2 separate regions of the Homo sapiens genome follow, and region 2 is linked to region 1. The links come from fine-mapping of genetic effects on gene expression. A gene starts in region 1. The other region holds a variant in brackets. All regions are shown on one strand. Distances are from middle to middle.

Region 1 (8,293 bases):
GTGCCCGACAGCTTTTTTTTTTTTTTTGAGACAGGGTCCCACTATGTTACCTAGGCTGGAGTGCAGTGTCGCAATCATAGCTCACTGCAGCCTCGACCTCCTGGGCTCAGGTGATCCTCCCACCTGGTTCTCGTGAGTAGCTGGGACCACAGGTGCCTGCCATCACTCCTGCCTAATTATTTATTTAATTTATTTATTTATTTATTTTTCTGTGAGACAGAGTCTCGCTCTATTGCCTAGGCTGGAGTGCAATGGCTGGATCTCAGGTCACTGCAACCTCCACCTCCCGGGTTGAAGCGATTCTCCCACGTAGCTGGGATTACAGGCACTCACCATCAAGCCTGGCTAATTTTTGTATTTTGAGTAGAGATGGGGCTTCACCATGTTGCCCAGGCTGATCTCAAACTCCTGACCTCAAGTGATCAACCCACCTCAGCCTCCCAAAGTGCTGGAATTACAGGCATGAGCCACCATACCCAGTCAATTTATTGGTATTTGTGAGATGGGGTCTCACTATGTTGCCCAGACTGGTCTTGAACTACCGGGTTCAAGCGATCCATCTGGGCCAGCCTCTCAAAACGCTAGGATTACAGGCATAAGCCACTGCACCCAGCTGTTTCTTTGTGGTTGAGACAGGATCTTGCTCTGTCACCCAGGCTGAAGTGCAGAGATGCCATCACAGCTCACTGCAGCCTATACCTCCTGGGTTCAAGCAATCTTCCCATCTCAGCTTCCCAAGTAGCTGGGACTACAGGTGTGTGCCACCACACCCCGCTAATTTTGTATTTTTTGTAGAGATGGGGTCTCACCTTATTCCTCAGGCTGGTCTCAAACTCCTGGGCTCAAGTGATCCTCCCGCCTCGGCCTCCCAAAGTGCTGGGATCACAGTCAAGAGCCACCTCACCACACCCAGTTTTTGGTGCTTTGTTACAGCCATCATGGGCGAGTCAGACAACCTGATACTGCCAACCCCCCTCACTCCCCACCCCAGTTTCACCCTGTCCTGGCACAGGTACCACCACCTTAAATTTAGAGTTTCTCATTTCTAGGCAGGCCTGGAAAATAGCATTTTGCAGCAGTTTTTTATTAAAAAAAATTTCAGTATACAATTCAGTAGGTTTTGGTACATTCAAAAAGCTGTGTGGGCTGGGCACAGTGGCTCACGCCTGTAATTCCAGCAGTTTGGGAGACCGAGGCAGGCAGATCACTTGAGACCAAGAGTTCCAGACCAGCCTGGCCAACATAGTGAAACCCGGTCTCTACTAAAAATACAAAAATAGCCAGGGATGGTGGTGCATGCCTGTAATTCCAGCTACTTGGGAGACTGAGGCAGGTGAATCCCTCTCTCTCTCTCTTTTTTTTTTTTTGAGGCGGAGTCACGCTCTTGTCTGTCCCAGGCTGGAGTGCAGTGGCGCGATCTTGGCTCACTGCAACCTCCGCCTCCCGGGTTCAAGTGATTCTCCTGTCTCAGCCTTCCAAGTAGCTGGGATTACAGGCACATGACACCATACTCAGCTAATTTAATTTTTGTATTTTTAGTAGAGATGGGGTTTCATCATGTTGGCCAGGATGGTCTTGATCTCTTGACCTTGTGATCTGCCTTCCTTGGCCTCCCCAAGTGCTGGGATTACAGGGGTGAGCCACCAGACCTGGCCTTTTTTTTTTTTTTTTTTTTTTGAGACAGTCTCACTCTGTTGTCCAGGCTGGAGTGCAGTGGCATGATCTTGGCTCACTGCAACCTCCGCCTCCCAGGTTGGAGCAATTCTGCCTCAGCCTCCCGAGTAACTGGGACTACAGGTGTGCGCCACCACACCTGGCTAATTTTTGTGTTTTTAGTAGAGATGGGGTTTCACTGCGTTGTCCAGGCTGGTCTCGAACTCCTGACCTCAAGCAATCCGCCTGCCTCAGCCTCCCAAAGTGCTGGATTACAGGCATGAGCCACCGTGCCCGGCCTTACATAAAATTTCTTACCTCGTCCAAACCCTCCTGCCACTTTCTTTTCTCTCCCCATGTTCAGTTTGTGAGGCTCCTCCTGGGCGGAGGCTGTGACTGGCTCTGCTGTAGGGCCCGCCACTGCAGGCAGGATGGCTGTTTATTGAGCCGACATTCCTGGGTAGGAATCTGATGGATACGTAGGTGTTTCTGACATTGCACTCCAGCGGATTTTTACCAACGCCTCCTGGTGCCTGGGGTCTCCTCCTTCATCTGTGACCTGGACATCCGTTCATTCCTCACCAAAGATCACTGGGCACCTGCTGTATGCCAGGCACTGTGCCCTGGACACTGGGCATGGGGACAGAGCAGGGGAACAGCCCCCACCCTCCTGGAGCTGACATTCCTCCAGTCCTGGGGACAAACAGGACAAAAGATGAAATGAAATATCAGCAGGGGGCTGGGGCTCAAGCCTGTAATCCCAACATTTTGGGAGGCTGAGGCGGGAGGATTCCTTGAGGTCAGGAGTTCGAGACCATCCTGGCCAACATGGTGAAACCCCCGTCTCTACTAAAAATACAAAAAAAATTAGCTGGGCATGGTGGCAGGTGCCTGTAATCCCAACTAATCAGGAGGCTGAGGCAGAAGAATCGCTTGAACCCGGGAGGCAGAGGTTGCAGTGAGCCGAGATCGTGCCACTGCACTCCAGCCTTGGCAAGAGAGAGAGACTCCGTCTCAAAAAATAAAATAAAATAAAATATCTGATATGTCAGATGGTAGCTTTAAATGCTGAAGAGAAGCTGGGCACAGTGGCTCACATCTGTAATCCTAGCACTTTGGGAGGCCAAGGCTGAAGGATGGCCTGAACCTCCTGGTCTTGAGTTTGAGACCAGCCTGGGCAACACAGTGAGATCCCAACTGTACAAAAAATTAATCATGTTTCTAAATTAAATTTTAAAAAACTGAATGCGGCCGGGTGCGGTGGTTCACGCCTGTAATCCCAGCACTTTGGGAGGCCAAGGCAGGTGGATCACCTGAGGTCAGGGGTTCGAGACAAGCCTGACCAACATGGTGAAACCCTGTCTCTACTAAAAAATACAAAAATTAGCCAGGCATGGTGGTGTGCGCCTATAATCCCAGCTACTAGGGGGGCTGAGGCAGGAGAATCGCTTGAACCCAGGAGGTGGAGGTTGCAGTGAGCCGAGATCACGCCATTGCACTCCAGCCTGGGCGACAGAGCTAGACTCCGTCTCCAAAATCAAACAAACAAACCAAAGGCTGGGCGTGGTGGCTCATGCCTGTAATCCCAGCTTTTTTGGAGGCTAAGGTGGGTGGATTCCTGAGGTCAGGAGTTCAAGACCATCCTGGCCAACATGGTGAAACCTCATCTCTATTAAAAATACAAAAAAATTAGCCGGGCATGGTGGTATATGCCTGTAATCCCAGCTACTGGGGAGGCCGAGGCATGAGAATTGCTTGAACCTGGTGGGCAGAGGTTGCAGTGAGCTGAGATCGTGCCACTGAACTCCAAACTGGGTGACAGAGCGAGACTCCAGCTCAAAATAAATAAATAAATAAAAATAATAAAATAAAATAAAACAATGACCTCGCCTAGCAGAGGGTGAGTGCTCCAGCACCCTCAGCTGTCCCTGTCCTTTTTTTTTTTTTTTTTTTTTTTTTTGCGACGGAGTCTCGCTTTGTTGCCCAGGCTGGAGTGTAATGGCGCCATCTCAGCTCACTGCCACCTCCGCCTCCCGGGTTCAAGAGATCTCAGCCTCCCGAGTAGCTGGGATTACAGGCGCCCGCCACCACGTCCGGCTGATTTTTGTATTTTTGGTAGAGACGGGGTTTCACCATGTTGGCCAGGCTAGTCTTGAACTCCTGACCTCAGGTCATCTGCCCGCTTCGGCCTCCCAAAGTGCTGGAATTACAGACGTGAGCCACCGCTCCAGGCCTGTCCCTGTCCTTATTTGTGGTCCCTGTTCTTCCAGGGTCCTGAGCTCAGGCCCCCCCGGACTGCGGGTATCCCCGGGGAGGGCACAGCTGGCCCTGGCAGGGCCCGGACACCTGGGGCCCGACCCACCCCTGCGCACCCCGCGGTGTCGCCTTCCCGGGAGGCTCGGGTTCCCAGATCCCCTTACCCGGGCGTCTCGGCTGTCGCGCCCTGGGCCGGGGGAGGGGAGGCTGCAGGAAGCGGCGGATCCGGCGGCGGCGGCGAGGGCCCGGGTGGGTGGCCGAACTTCTCCCGCCATGGAGGGAGCAGCGGCCCGGGAGGCCCGGGGGACCGAGACCCCGCGCGCGTCTGCGCCCCCGCCCGCGCCCTCGGAGCCCCCGGCCGCGCCCCGCGCCCGCCCGCGCCTCGTCTTCCGCACGCAGCTGGCGCACGGGAGCCCCACGGGCAAGATCGAGGGCTTCACCAACGTCCGCGAGCTGTACGCCAAGATCGCCGAAGCCTTCGGGATCGCGCCCACCGAGGTAAGGAGCCCGGACACCGGCGCCCAAGACCACCCGCCTGATGGGGTGAGGGGTAGGGAGCTTGGACCCTGGACGGGAGACCCCAGATCCCCGGATCCCAGACGTCGGGGTGGCCGCCTAATCGCCGGATCTCAGAGACCCAGCCCTCAGATCCCGGGGTGCCACACTCCCAGGGGCCCCCTTTGCACGCTCTGCGCAAAAGATGGGCAGGTCTTAGGACTAGCGGACCCCTAGATATTCCAGAAAATCCTCTGCGCAGACCTAGCTTGGAGCGGACCCCAGCCCTCGGGGAAGCGCCTCTGTGCTTCCTGGGCGTAGCTGGGGTCTGGGGTTCCAGATGGCCCCCTTAGGGATGGGAAGTTTGAGGCCGCCGTGGGGTTGGGGGGTTCCTGGGCGTTTTTCCAATCCGGGTTCGTTTGGTTTGCAGCCCCCAGGGGGCGCCAGCAGATTAAACCTGGAGGTCTGGGGGCTGGAGGTCCCGGGGTATGGAGAGGGGTCTCCACCTGCTGGAAGTCTCCTTCTCCCTCCTCTCTCTGTTCTGGGGGTCCCACGCCCTGCCCTTTCCCATGGGCTGGGATCCTGGTCGCTGGGGGCAGGGGCCTGCGCAGACAGGGTGGCTGCGTGGGGGGATGCATGCCCTGGCTAACTCTAGGCTCCTTCTCCCCCGGGAAGATTTTATTCTGCACCCTCAACAGCCACAAAGTGGACATGCAGAAGCTCCTGGGGGGTCAGATAGGCCTGGAGGACTTCATCTTTGCCCACGTGCGAGGCGAGACCAAGGAGGTGGAGGTCACTAAGACAGAGGATGCTCTGGGGCTGACCATCACGGACAACGGGGCTGGCTACGCCTTCATCAAGGTGCCCGGGAGGGGGTGGGCGGGTGGCTTCCTGGGGTCCAGCAACTGCCCCCCCCACTCTGGGTCGACGTGGGTTCTGCGGATTGGAGGCGGGTGGCTGGGGTTGCCCTGCCAGCGACGCTGGATCCCTGCAGAGAATCAAGGAAGGCAGTATCATCAACCGGATCGAGGCAGTGTGCGTGGGTGACAGCATCGAAGCCATCAACGACCACTCCATTGTGGGCTGCCGCCACTACGAGGTGGCCAAGATGCTCCGGGAGCTGCCCAAGTCCCAGCCCTTCACCCTGCGCCTGGTGCAGCCCAAGAGGGCCTTCGGTGAGGCGGGTGGGCTGGCGGGAGCTCTTCCCGAAGTGCGTTCTACGGATGCCTGGGGTGGAGGAGGGTCGGGGATGGGACGGGCTGGAAGGTTCTAGGTGCACCCGCTGCGTGCCAAGGAGCTCCTGGCAGGGTATCAGAAACTCGTAGGTAGTTTCTATTAATAGATTGTTATGGAGTCAGCCTGTGGGGGAGGGGTGGGGGAGAGACTGGGTAAAGTGGAGTTGGAGGAGGACGCGTCCAGAACCACTTTGGAGCCAGGCTGGGAGACTTGTTTTTGTTTGTTTGTTTGTTTGTTTGTTTTTGAGACGGAGTCTCACTCTGTTGCCTGGGCTGGAGTGCAATGGCGCGATCTCAGCTCACTGCAATCTCCACCTCCCGGGTTCAAGCGATTCTCCTGCCTCAGCCTCCCGAGTAGCTGGGACTACAGGCACCCACCATTGCGCCTGGCTAATTTTTGTATTTTTAGTAGAGACGGGGTTTCACCATCTTGACCAGTCTGGTCTCGAACTTCTGACCTCAAGTGCTCCACCCGCCTCAGTCTCCCAAAATGCTAGGATTATAGGCGTGAGCCACCGCGCGCAGCCTGGGAACTTTTAAAGCAGTGCTTTGAGGTCATGGTGGATTGTAGAGAATGAGAATATGAGAAAAAAGTTTTCTTTCTTTTCTTTTTTTTTTCCTTTCTTTTTTCTTTTCTTTTCTTTTTTTTTTTTTGAGACGGAGTCTAGCTCTGTCGCCCAGACTGCAGTGCAGTGGCTAGATTTCAGCTCACTGCAAGCTCCGCCTCCCGGGTTCACACCATTCTCCTGCCTCAGCCTCCCGAGTAGCTGGGACTACAGGCGCCCGCCACCACACCCGGCTAATTTTTTGTATTTTAGTAGAGATGAGGTTTTACCGTGTTAGCCAGGACGGTCTCGATCTCCTGACCTCGTGATCCGCCCACCTCGGCCTCCCAAAGTGCTGCGATTACAGGTGTGAGCCACCGCGCCTGGCCGTGCCAGCTAATTTTTAATTTTTTTCTTTTTTTGAGACGGAGTTTTGCTCTTGTTGCCCAGGCTGGAGTGCAATGGTGTGATCTCGGCTCACCACAACCTCTGCCTCCCAGGTTCAAGTGATTCTCCTGCCTCAGCCTCCCAACTAGCTGGGATTACAGGCATGTGCCACCATGCCTGGCTAATTTTGTATTTTTAGTAGAGATGGGGTTTCTCCATGTTGGCAGGCTGGTCTCGAACTCCCGACCTCAGGTGATCTGCCCGCCTCGGCCTCCGAAAGTGCTGGAATTACAGGCATGAGCCACTGCACCCTGCCCATTTTTTTTCATAACTAGACTTTCTCAATGAAGAAAACAGTGTATTGATTTACACACTAGCACATTCTCCTCATGTAGCCATGGGTTGGCCCTTTGGATAGCGTTGTTCTATAGAACAGAGACAGAGATTCTAGAAGTGCCCCAGCACACATGGAGAGACGTCCCAGGGAGAGTGAGCTGTATGGGGTTCTAGAATCTGCCCTGCCGTGGCTGTGAACTCCAAAAGCCATGCCTAAAAATAGAGTTTAGGCCGGGCGTGGTGGCTCACACCTGTAATCCCAGCACTTTGAGAGGCCAAGGCAGGTGGATCACCTGAGGTCAGGTGATCCATCGTATCAAAAAAAAAAAAAAAAAAACCTGGCTGGGTGCAGTGGCTCAAGCCTGTAATCCCAGTACTTTGGAAGGCCAAGGCGGGTGCATCACGAGGTCAGGAGTTCGAGACCAGCCTGGCCAATATGGTGAAACCCTGTCTCTACTAAAAATACAAAAAATTAGCTGGGCATGGTGGCAGGTGCCTGTAATCCCAGCTACTCGAGAGGCTGAGGCAGGAGAATCGCTTGAACCTGGGAGGTGGAGGCTGCAGTAAGCCGAGATCGTGCCATTGCACTCTAGCCTGGGTGACAGAGCAAGACAACATCTCAAAAAAAAAAAAAAAAATCAAGCTTAGTCTGAGACTAAACCCAGCTCTAGAGCCCAGGCCAGCTCTCAGACCAAGCCCTGCTCTTAAGCCCAGGCCAGCTCTGAGACTAAGTGTGTTTCTAGCACCTCAGTCCTGACACTAAGCCGGGTTCTGGAACCCAGACAAGAACATATCTAGATTGAGGATCCTACCACAAGGAGGGTCCCAAGCAGTCCCTTCTAGAGAAAGTCGCTAGAAGAGGGAGAGTGAGGGCATGGAACTGGGATGTTAGTTCTAAACCTGCTCCATTACAACACCTCATTCTGGACTTGTGATTTAGTTTGCTGGGGATGCGAAGTGTGGAATCTCGAATAGGTCTCTGGAGACTTGCCGTACAGATGTAAGGAGGACTTTGAAGGGGAGGAAGATTCTAGAAAGGCTCGGCTGTTGGCCTCCCAGGGTTTACAAAGATGTGGCTCCACCCAGAACCCATGGCCATCCCTCACTCTGTTCCCTCCAGATATGATTGGCCAGAGAAGTCGGTCCAGCAAATGTCCAGTAGAGGCGAAAGTGACCAGCGGGAGGGAGACCCTGCGGCTTCGTTCTGGGGGGGCTGCCACAGTGGAGGAAGCGGTGAGTGAAGGGGAGGGGCTCTCCCCAGGCTTCTGCACCTTCAGCTCCTCCACTGAGTCAGTGCGGTCTTGGGTAAGAACTTCTCCTCGGAGCCTCAGTTTCTCTGCCTGCAAAATGGGTCCTCATTGAAAAGTGGGGCAATGATGTTGGTAC
Region 2 (8,264 bases), 37 kb after region 1:
CAGGCCCATGCCCGCCGTTACCTGGCCCCTTGCCCGAGGCCTCCAGCTTGCGGAGCTTGGAGATCTCGTCCTCGGTGATGGTGGTCATGTCCCGCCAGAAGTCGGCGTTCTTGCCCTGCTCCAGCTCCATGTAGACCTGGGGGCAGGGGGCAGGGGTCAGGACACGGGTGTGGCTGGGGTGGGGGTGAGGGTGCAGGTCAGAGGAGCATCGGGTGGGGCTGGGTACCTGGATATCCTCCAGCAGGTCCTCCATGTCGGCCACGGTGAGGCCGTTGAGGAACGTGTAGGGCTCATGCATCTCCACGGCCAGATCGTCATCCTCAGCGCTGATGTACTTGGCCAGCAGGTCGATGGGCTTGGCCCGCCCGTCCCGGATGCGGATCTTGGAACTGTGGGGAGCAGGGGAAGGTGGCATCAGAGCCTGGGCTGTGCCCTCCATGCTAAAGACCCTGCCCTTGGGGTGACCACACCAGTGGGAGCCGAGGAGGGGCCTGACCCGTTGGGGGTGGTCAGGGAAGGCTTCCTGGAGGAGGAGGAGGAGGAGGCATAAGGTAGAGTGAGCCGGGTCAGCCAAAGGGCGCAGGCCAGCAGTGCAGACAAAGTGCAAGCAGCGTGGACCCGGAGGTGGGCCAGGTGGGAGGGGCTTCCTGGAGGGCCTCTGGGATGTGCCCAGGATGGCGGCTTCTATGTGGGCTGTGATGGGGAAGAGTGGAGGAGCTGAAGCAGAGGCAGGCTGGGGGACCAGAGTAGTCACTGCCTTGCAACCACCTCCTCCCCCAGGCAGACCACTCGGGGCAGAGAGCCGGGTTTCTGTTCTGGGCCTGCAGGGGGGTACGCGTTGCAGGCGGGCCCTGGTCCAACCCAAGGGAACCCGTCACCAGGGAGGCCCGAGCTGGGAGGAGCCTGATGTCACCCGCCACGGGGCCCAAGGCAAGCAGGGACACCCCGGAGCCTCAGCTTGTCTGTAAACCAGGCGGATGGGGGTGCCACCCTCCTGGGTGGAGTGTGGGAGGGACAACTGCAGTCAGTGCAGGACTGGCGTCCAGCATGCGTGGGGTGCCGTTCACCTGGGCCCGTCTCCTCTGCACCCTGCCCAGCAGGGGAGGGCAGGAGACAGAAGCCTTGCCGCCCGGGAAGGGGTCAGGAAGGGAAGGTCCCAGGAAGTGCCGTGTGGGACCCTGAAGGGTGGGAGAGCAGTGGCTTCCAGAGTGACAGCCAGTGCCCGGCCCTGGCTCCAAGTCTGGGTCGGAGGGAGGGGGAGGCCCCAGCGCACCGCAGCTTGGCCTGCTGGAGGTGGAAGTTGTCCTCCTGCTCCTCCCATGTCTTGAAGTGCTCTGCCTCCTTCTCGCGCTGCAGCATCTCCAGCTCCTGCTCGCGCATGGCCTTCTCCCGCTCCCGCTCCAGCCGCAGCTGCTTCACCTGCAGGCACAGGAGGCTGAGGGCAGCGGGGACCGTGCGGTCTGCAGGGCTGCGGGGGGAGGGGCTGTGATGATGGGGGCCCAGCCTTCACCCAGCTGCCCTGGGCACAGGGATTGGTCCGGAGATGCCTGGGCTGGTGGACAGACCTTGGGAAGGGAGAGGGCCCTCCTGCCCGAGACTCAGCAGCTCAGATCAGCTGGGGCCCTCTCGGCCACCCTGAAGGGAGCATGTGGGAGTGAAGGCCCGAGGCCAGCAGAGCCGAGAGGTGGAGGGAAACAGTTTCCTGGGGCCATGGTCTGAGCCCCTGGATCCAGCCTTACCTGAAGCCAGCCCCCAGGACTTCCCACTTAAGCCCCTCAAGTCCTGCCAAAGGGGGCGGGCCTCCAGGCCCTGGAAAGGGAGGGCCCTGCCCAGTGGGCTGGCAGGGTGCCTACCTTCTGCAGCTCCAGCCGGTTGTCCTCCTGGATCCTCTTGTTCCGCTCCTTCAGCTCCTTCTCCTCCAGGTGGCTGATCCCCTTCTTCTCCAGGGCCTGGAAGCACCAGGCACACCTGCCCTGAGCACAGACCCGCCCCCTCGCCCCCCTCCTCAGCTCCTTCGTCCAAGAGATTGACCAGGGCCCTTGTTTTGCAGAGAGAGGTGACCTGCCAGCACTGCACGTCTTCCACCCCCTCCTTAACACTCCTGAAACCCAGTGCATCCAATTCAGTGCAGACATGGAGCCCCCACTGGGAGTGAGATGTATGCAAAGGGTAAGAAGGGGCTACCCCAACTCTCAACAGGAGGGCCTCACTCGGGGCCGCCCCAACTCCCAACAGGAGGGCCTTGCTCGGGGCCACCCCAGCCCCCAACAGAAGAGCCTTGCTCGGGGCCTGCTGACTCGCTTTACCCGGGAGTCTGAGTGCTTCGGACGTGAAGGCCACGCCCTCAGCAAGTCAGGGTCCCCCACTGCACGTGGGACAGGGCAGGAACAGTGAGTGGGGGCAGCAGCAGCTCTGAAAGCAAACCTGTGGGGTCATGGGGCCCCGCCCACACAGCGGGGCACAGGGGTGGCCACTGATGGGCTTGTCCCAGCCTGGAGACCCTCAAAGCTGGCTTCTTCCAGCAGCTGTCTGAGAGCCTGGCGCGGAGCCCCCACTTCCCGACCACCTTCCTCAGGCTCCCGGTGCCCCGTCGCCATGAGGGGGTTCCAGGAACCCCTGCCGCCCAGAACTTGCCTCCAGGGACACAGGCTGCCTGGCTGGGGACCACCCCCAGACACCCGGGCCACTCTGTGGTCTATCCAACCCAGCCTGGGGCCGCTTCCACAGGCGTCAACGATGACCACATCTTCCTCCTCCATGGCTGCCCGCCCAGAGCTCACGGTGGTGCCCAGCACACCGCAGGTGCACAGCACATGGTGGCGATGAAGTGCCAGGCAGCAGTGTGTGCCTCAATAAAGAACTCTGGGGGGTCTGGGGAGCAAGGGGCCAGGAAGGGGTCTCTCAAGAGGGGATGTGTCAGTTGAGGCCTGACGGAAGAGAACAGCCGGGGAAGGGGCAGAGCATGTCCAGGCAGGGGCGCGGCAGTGTGAGGGCCCCGAGGCGGAAGGAGCTCGTTGTGTTCTCAGACGACATCGGGCAGAAGCCACCTGGAGACCCCACAGCTCCCAACTGCGCAACCGGCGAGCAGGTGCAGTCGGCCCAGCCCACACGTTGCCTGCTCCACCCCCTCCACAAGTGGATGCTGCTTCAGATGAGCTGTGTCCCCCACAGGCACATCCCCGTCTGAACCCCTGCAGCTGTAATCATGACCCCATGTGAAATGAGGTCTTGGCCAGGTATGGTGGCTGACACCTGTAATCCCAGCATATTGGGAGGCCAAGGCGGGCAGATCACTTGAGGTCAGGAGTTCGAGACCAGCCTGACCAACATGGTTAAACTCTGTCTACTAAAAATACAAAAATTAGCTGAGTGTGGTGGCACCCGCCTGTAATTCCAGCTACTTGGGAGGCTGGGGCAGGGGAATCACTTGAACCCAGGAAGCGGAGGTTGCAGTGAGCCGAGATTGCGCCTTTGCATTCTAGTCTGGGCAACAGAGTGAGACTCCATCTCAAAAAAAAAAAAAAAAAAAAAGTGATGAGGTCTTGCAGACGTAGGTAAGATGAGGTCATCCTGGAGGTGGCGGGCCCTCATCCAATGCCTGGTGTCCTCATGGGAAGAGGAACATTTACACACAGACACACAGAGCAGAAGGCCGTATGGAGACAGAGACGGGAAGGCAGACC[G/A]CCACACAACACAGGAACAGGCCGGGTTCTGCGGCTGCAAGCCAGGGAGGGCCCAGGAATCACCGGCCATGACTGGAGCTGGGAGAGGCAGGAGGGGCCTCCCCTCGGCCCCCAGAGGGAGTGGGGTCCTGCCCACACCTGCCCACGCCTTGATTTTGGACTTCTGGACTCCAGAACGAAGAGATGATAAGTTCTGTTGTCTTATGCCACTGGTGTGACTGGTGGCTAAATGGCAGGCGCAGAACGAAAGAACCAGCTCAGACGACAGAGCGCCTGGAACTGTGGAACCCTGTCCTGGGTACATGATGCCAAGAGCTGGCTCTCTAGATAGGTTTCAGGTTGGGCTGGTGTTCGGGGCAAAGAATGGCTGAAGCTTACACCGCAAGAGACACAGTTAATGGCAAGAAAATGACGGTGGGCTGGGCGCAGTGGCTCATGCCTGTAATCCCAGAACTCTGGGAGGCCGAGGTGGGAAAATCACTTGAGCTTAGGAGTTCGAGACCAGCCTGGCCAACATAGTGAGACTCCATCTTTACAAAAAAATAAAAAATTAGCCGGGCATGGTGGTGGTGCCTGTAGTCCCAGCAAGTCAAAACGCTGAGGTAGGAGGATCGCTTGAGGCCAGGAGGTCAAGGCTGCAGTTAGCCACGATCACGCCACTGCACTCCAGCCTGGGTGACAGAGCGAGACCCTGAGTCAAAAAAGAAAGCTGGCCGGGCGTGGTGGCTCACGCCTGTAATCCCAGCACTTTGGGAGGCCAAGGCGGGTGGATCACAAGGTCAGGAGATCGAGACCATCCTGGCTAACATGGTGAAACCCTGTCTCTACTAAAAATACAAAAAATTAGCCGGGCGTGGTAGCGGGCGCCTGTAGCCCCAGCTACTCAGGAGGCTGAGGCAGGAGAATGGCATGAACCCGGGAGGTGGAGCTTGCAGTGAGCCGAGATCACACCACTTCACTCCAGCCTGGGCGACAGAGCGAGACCCTGTGTCAAAAAAGAAAGCTGATAGCGGCAGAAGCTTGCTTATGCGTGTGTGTGTAAAACCAACTCTTGCACGATCAAGGGCAGGCTGGGAGTGTCTCAAGTGTTGGGGTCTCCAGAAACAGTGGAAATGCTACAGGGACAGAGGCCACCACCCGGCGGGGCCCACCTTATTCCAGATGAAGGTGCCCAGCAGGTTGTTGTCTCCGAAGGGGTTGTCGGTGTTGGTGTAGCCCATGTACTCCTCACCCCAGCCCATCTTCTCCCGCTTCTTGCGCTCCTTGGCCTCCTTCTTGGCCAGCCGCCGTGCGCGCTTCTCCTCGGGCGTCTCGAAGGCCTTCATCAGCTCCTCCTGCTGCTTCCGCTCCTCCCGCAGCCGCAGCCGCTCCTGCAGGCTCTGCTGCTGGCTCAGGGCAGCCGCGGCCGCCCGGGGGCTCTGGGATCGCCCTGGAGACGCGGAGCTGGATGCTGAGGAGCTAGGAGACCACGAGCGTGCGCGCCGTCGCCGGCGAGCCCACTGGCCCCGTGACTGCTCCTCTCCTGAGTCCGACTGAGAGGACCCATCTCTTGAGTGCCACTTGGGCCGCGGGGGGCTCCGGCTTCGCATCCCTGAGCGCTGCCACCGCTCTTCCTCTGAATCTGACCTGCGGAGAGGACCATGGATGCCTGCTCAGTGCCTGCAGCTGTCATCTGCTCCACAGATGCTTACTGGGTGCCCGTGGGGGAGCAGGCACTGTTCTAGGTTCTGGGGACACAGCAGTGACCCAAATACCGATGGCTTCTGCCTTCCTGGGCTCACCCTCTGGTGGGCCCCAACAAGGAAGACATCAACAAATAAACACACCACGCAACACTAGGCAGAGGCAGAAGCCACAAAGAGTAGCAATGCCGAGCACAGGGGCTGGGGCTGCAGGGCCGAGGTCAGAGAGGGGCTCTCTCAGGAGCTGACACTGAGCCAAGGTCTGGAGGGAGTGGGGAGGCAGCGATGGGTGGATTCGGAGGGAGAGTGCTCGAGGCAGAGCAAGAGCGAGGGCCTAGAGGCAGGCACTGACCTGCCACATTCTAAGAACAACAAGGAGGCTGTATGGCTGAGACAGAGTGTGGGGGAGAGGGAGGAGGCGCGGGCAGGGAGGTGGCTGGGGCTGGTGGCGCAGGAATTATAAGGGTACGAACCAGGGGACCCGAACACATTTAGGCTGTCAAGGGAGGGCTTCCTAGATGGAAGTGGTATTTGAACTAGTCCCACAGGATGGACAGGAGTTAACAGAGTAGAGCGCAGGGAATGGAAGATGCACAACCTCAGGGGTGGTTCAGGGGCCTTTAATTTTATTTATTAGAGACAAGGTCTACTAGACACAGAGTCTACTAGAGACAAGGTCTATATTTTTATTTATTAGAGACAGAGTCTCCCTCTGTCACACAGGCTGGAGTGCATGATCAGAGCTCACTGCAGCCTTGACCTCCTGGGCTCAAGCCATCCTCTCGCCTCAGCCTCCTGAGTAGCGGGGACTACAGGCACACACCACCACGCCCAGGTAACTCTTTACATTTTTTTGTACAGAGGGGTCTTGCTATGTTGCCCAGGCTGGTCTTGAACTCCTGGGCTCAGGCAAGCCTCCTGTCTCAGCCTCCCAAAGTGTTGGGATTACAGATGTGAGCCACTGCGCTCAGTCACGTTTAGGGGTCTTTGTACACAGAGAACTGCCAAATATTTTGTTAAATGCTCTACCCATTAAGCTCATGTCAAAAAAATCTAAACTATGTTGAAACCAATCATTGCAGAGCCCTTAAATATTGGCCACAAGTTCAACTGAATTTTCGTGAACATTAATTCTAATTACATATCTAGAGTGGCAAATTATTGTGAATAATTCCAATACCAGAAAATGGTAGGCGAAAAAACACAAAGATGACATTAACAAGACTTATGGGCAGGCGCGGTGGCTCACGCCTGTAATCCCAGCACTTTGGGAGGCCGAGGCGGGCAGATCACTTGAGGCCAGGAGTTCAAGACCTGCCTGGCCAATATGGAGAAATCCCAGCTCTACGAAAAAATTCAAAAATTAGCTGGGTGTGGCAACAAGCACCTGTAACCCCAGCTACCGGGGAGGCTGAGGCTGAAGAATCGCTTGAACCCAGGAGGCAGAGGTAACAGCCGAGATCGTGCCACTGCACCCCAGCCTGGGCGACAGAGCAAGACTCCGTCTCAAAAACAAACAAACAAAAAAACCAACAACCGATGAGTGAACTTGGCCCAGAGCGGGGCAAGACTGGCCTGAGTGTCAGCCACGAAGGGGCTGAGCCAGCACTGGGGCCCCGGTCTGGGAATCAGTCCCTGTCCCCATTTTGGTTTCTCTGTACTGGAGCCGGCTCAAGGCAAATCCGACCAAGTGCCCCATCTCCAGAAGAAAAGGACCATGGGGAAGCTGAGATTCAGGCACTAGGAATCAGCTGTGAGTCCTGCCAGCTGACACCGAGTCTTTTTCCCTCCCACAGCCCACCTCCATTAGCAAATGTTGTCTCCTCTACTTCCAGAATCCCTCTGAAATCTACGCACTTTGCCCGCTGTGGTTGACTACAGCCTCCCTCCCATCGAGACTGCCATCATCTACTGTCTGGACAATTGTGCCGTCCTACTCTGATGCCGCTCCTGCCTACCCCGCTCCATCCCTTCTCCACCTCAAAGCCAGAAAGTATGCAGAGTTAAGTCAGTCCACGTCACTCCCCTACCCAAACTCCTCTCAAGACTCTCCATTTCCCTCCGACTAATAGCCAAGATCTAATGTGCTGAGCACACAGGGCTCGATATGATATGATCTGATCTCTCGTTACCTCCCCGCCGCCTCGCTCACCCGGCTCCGGGCTGTCCCTCCAACCGCCCGGTCCCCTGCCTGGAACGCCTCTCGCCTTCCTTCCGCTGCCAGGTTAATTCCAACCGGTGGTCAATTGTCCCCTTCTCTAGGAAGCCCTCCCCGAGTAAGTCGGGGGTTTCCCGGTTCCCCGGGATCTCCAACCCTCGGTCGGGCGCTCCTGAGGTAGGAGCCGGATCCCCAGCGCTGCTCCCGCAGCGACCCCACCTGCGCTCCCGGCTCCGCCGCCTCCGTCTGCGCCGTCCCTCGTCCTCCCGGCGCCGTCGGTTTCGCCGCCCATGGCTCCTGCTCCGACTTCGGCTCCCGCTCTGACTCTGCCGCCTTCGGCCCCGGCGACCCGCGGACCGCGAGCGCGAGCGTGTGTCCCGACCCATCGGCTGGGCCAGTGGCCGCGGCACCAACACCAATAGCCGAAGCCTGCGCTGGGGGCCTTCCTCGCCCACGGCGCTCTCCAGGCTGCCCCGTTTGCGCCTGAGCCGGGAAAGAGCAACCCATCCCGTCGCCCCAGCCCGCAAGGACTCCGACACCCCAGACTTTCCACTACGTCTGCAAATGTGGACCGCGTGATTGACTCCAGTGGGATTGTTGCCTCCAGGGTGGCGGAGTCTCCTTTCAGGCAGTGCTGGAGGCAGCCCTAGGCGGGTCCCCACGCCTCAGGGGGCCTGAGAAACTGTGGGCGGGGCAAGGGCAAACTAGGAACCTTGTGCAGGGAGGGGCCTGCCGAGGCGA

The links.
Region 2: its variant is fine-mapped to the expression of GIPC3 in whole blood (TOPMed, PIP 0.98).

Annotation. Positions count from the first base shown.
Region 1 is chr19:3,581,416-3,589,708 of GRCh38, forward strand. It overlaps GIPC3 (GIPC PDZ domain containing family member 3), which reads left to right and starts at 4,063. Exons shown (of 6, transcript NM_133261.3): 1 at 4,063-4,407; 2 at 5,080-5,265; 3 at 5,399-5,579; 4 at 8,028-8,140. The coding sequence starts at 4,183.
Region 2 is chr19:3,618,854-3,627,117 of GRCh38, forward strand. CACTIN (cactin, spliceosome C complex subunit) reads right to left here and starts at 7,937. Exons shown (of 10, transcript NM_001080543.2): 1 at 7,743-7,937; 2 at 4,835-5,309; 3 at 1,854-1,949; 4 at 1,274-1,419; 5 at 227-389; 6 at 22-136. The coding sequence starts at 7,909. RefSeq lists enhancers at 5,098-5,599, 5,600-6,099, 6,326-6,887, 6,888-7,449, 7,450-8,011 and 2 more. The variant G/A (reference allele first, on the strand shown) is at 3,684.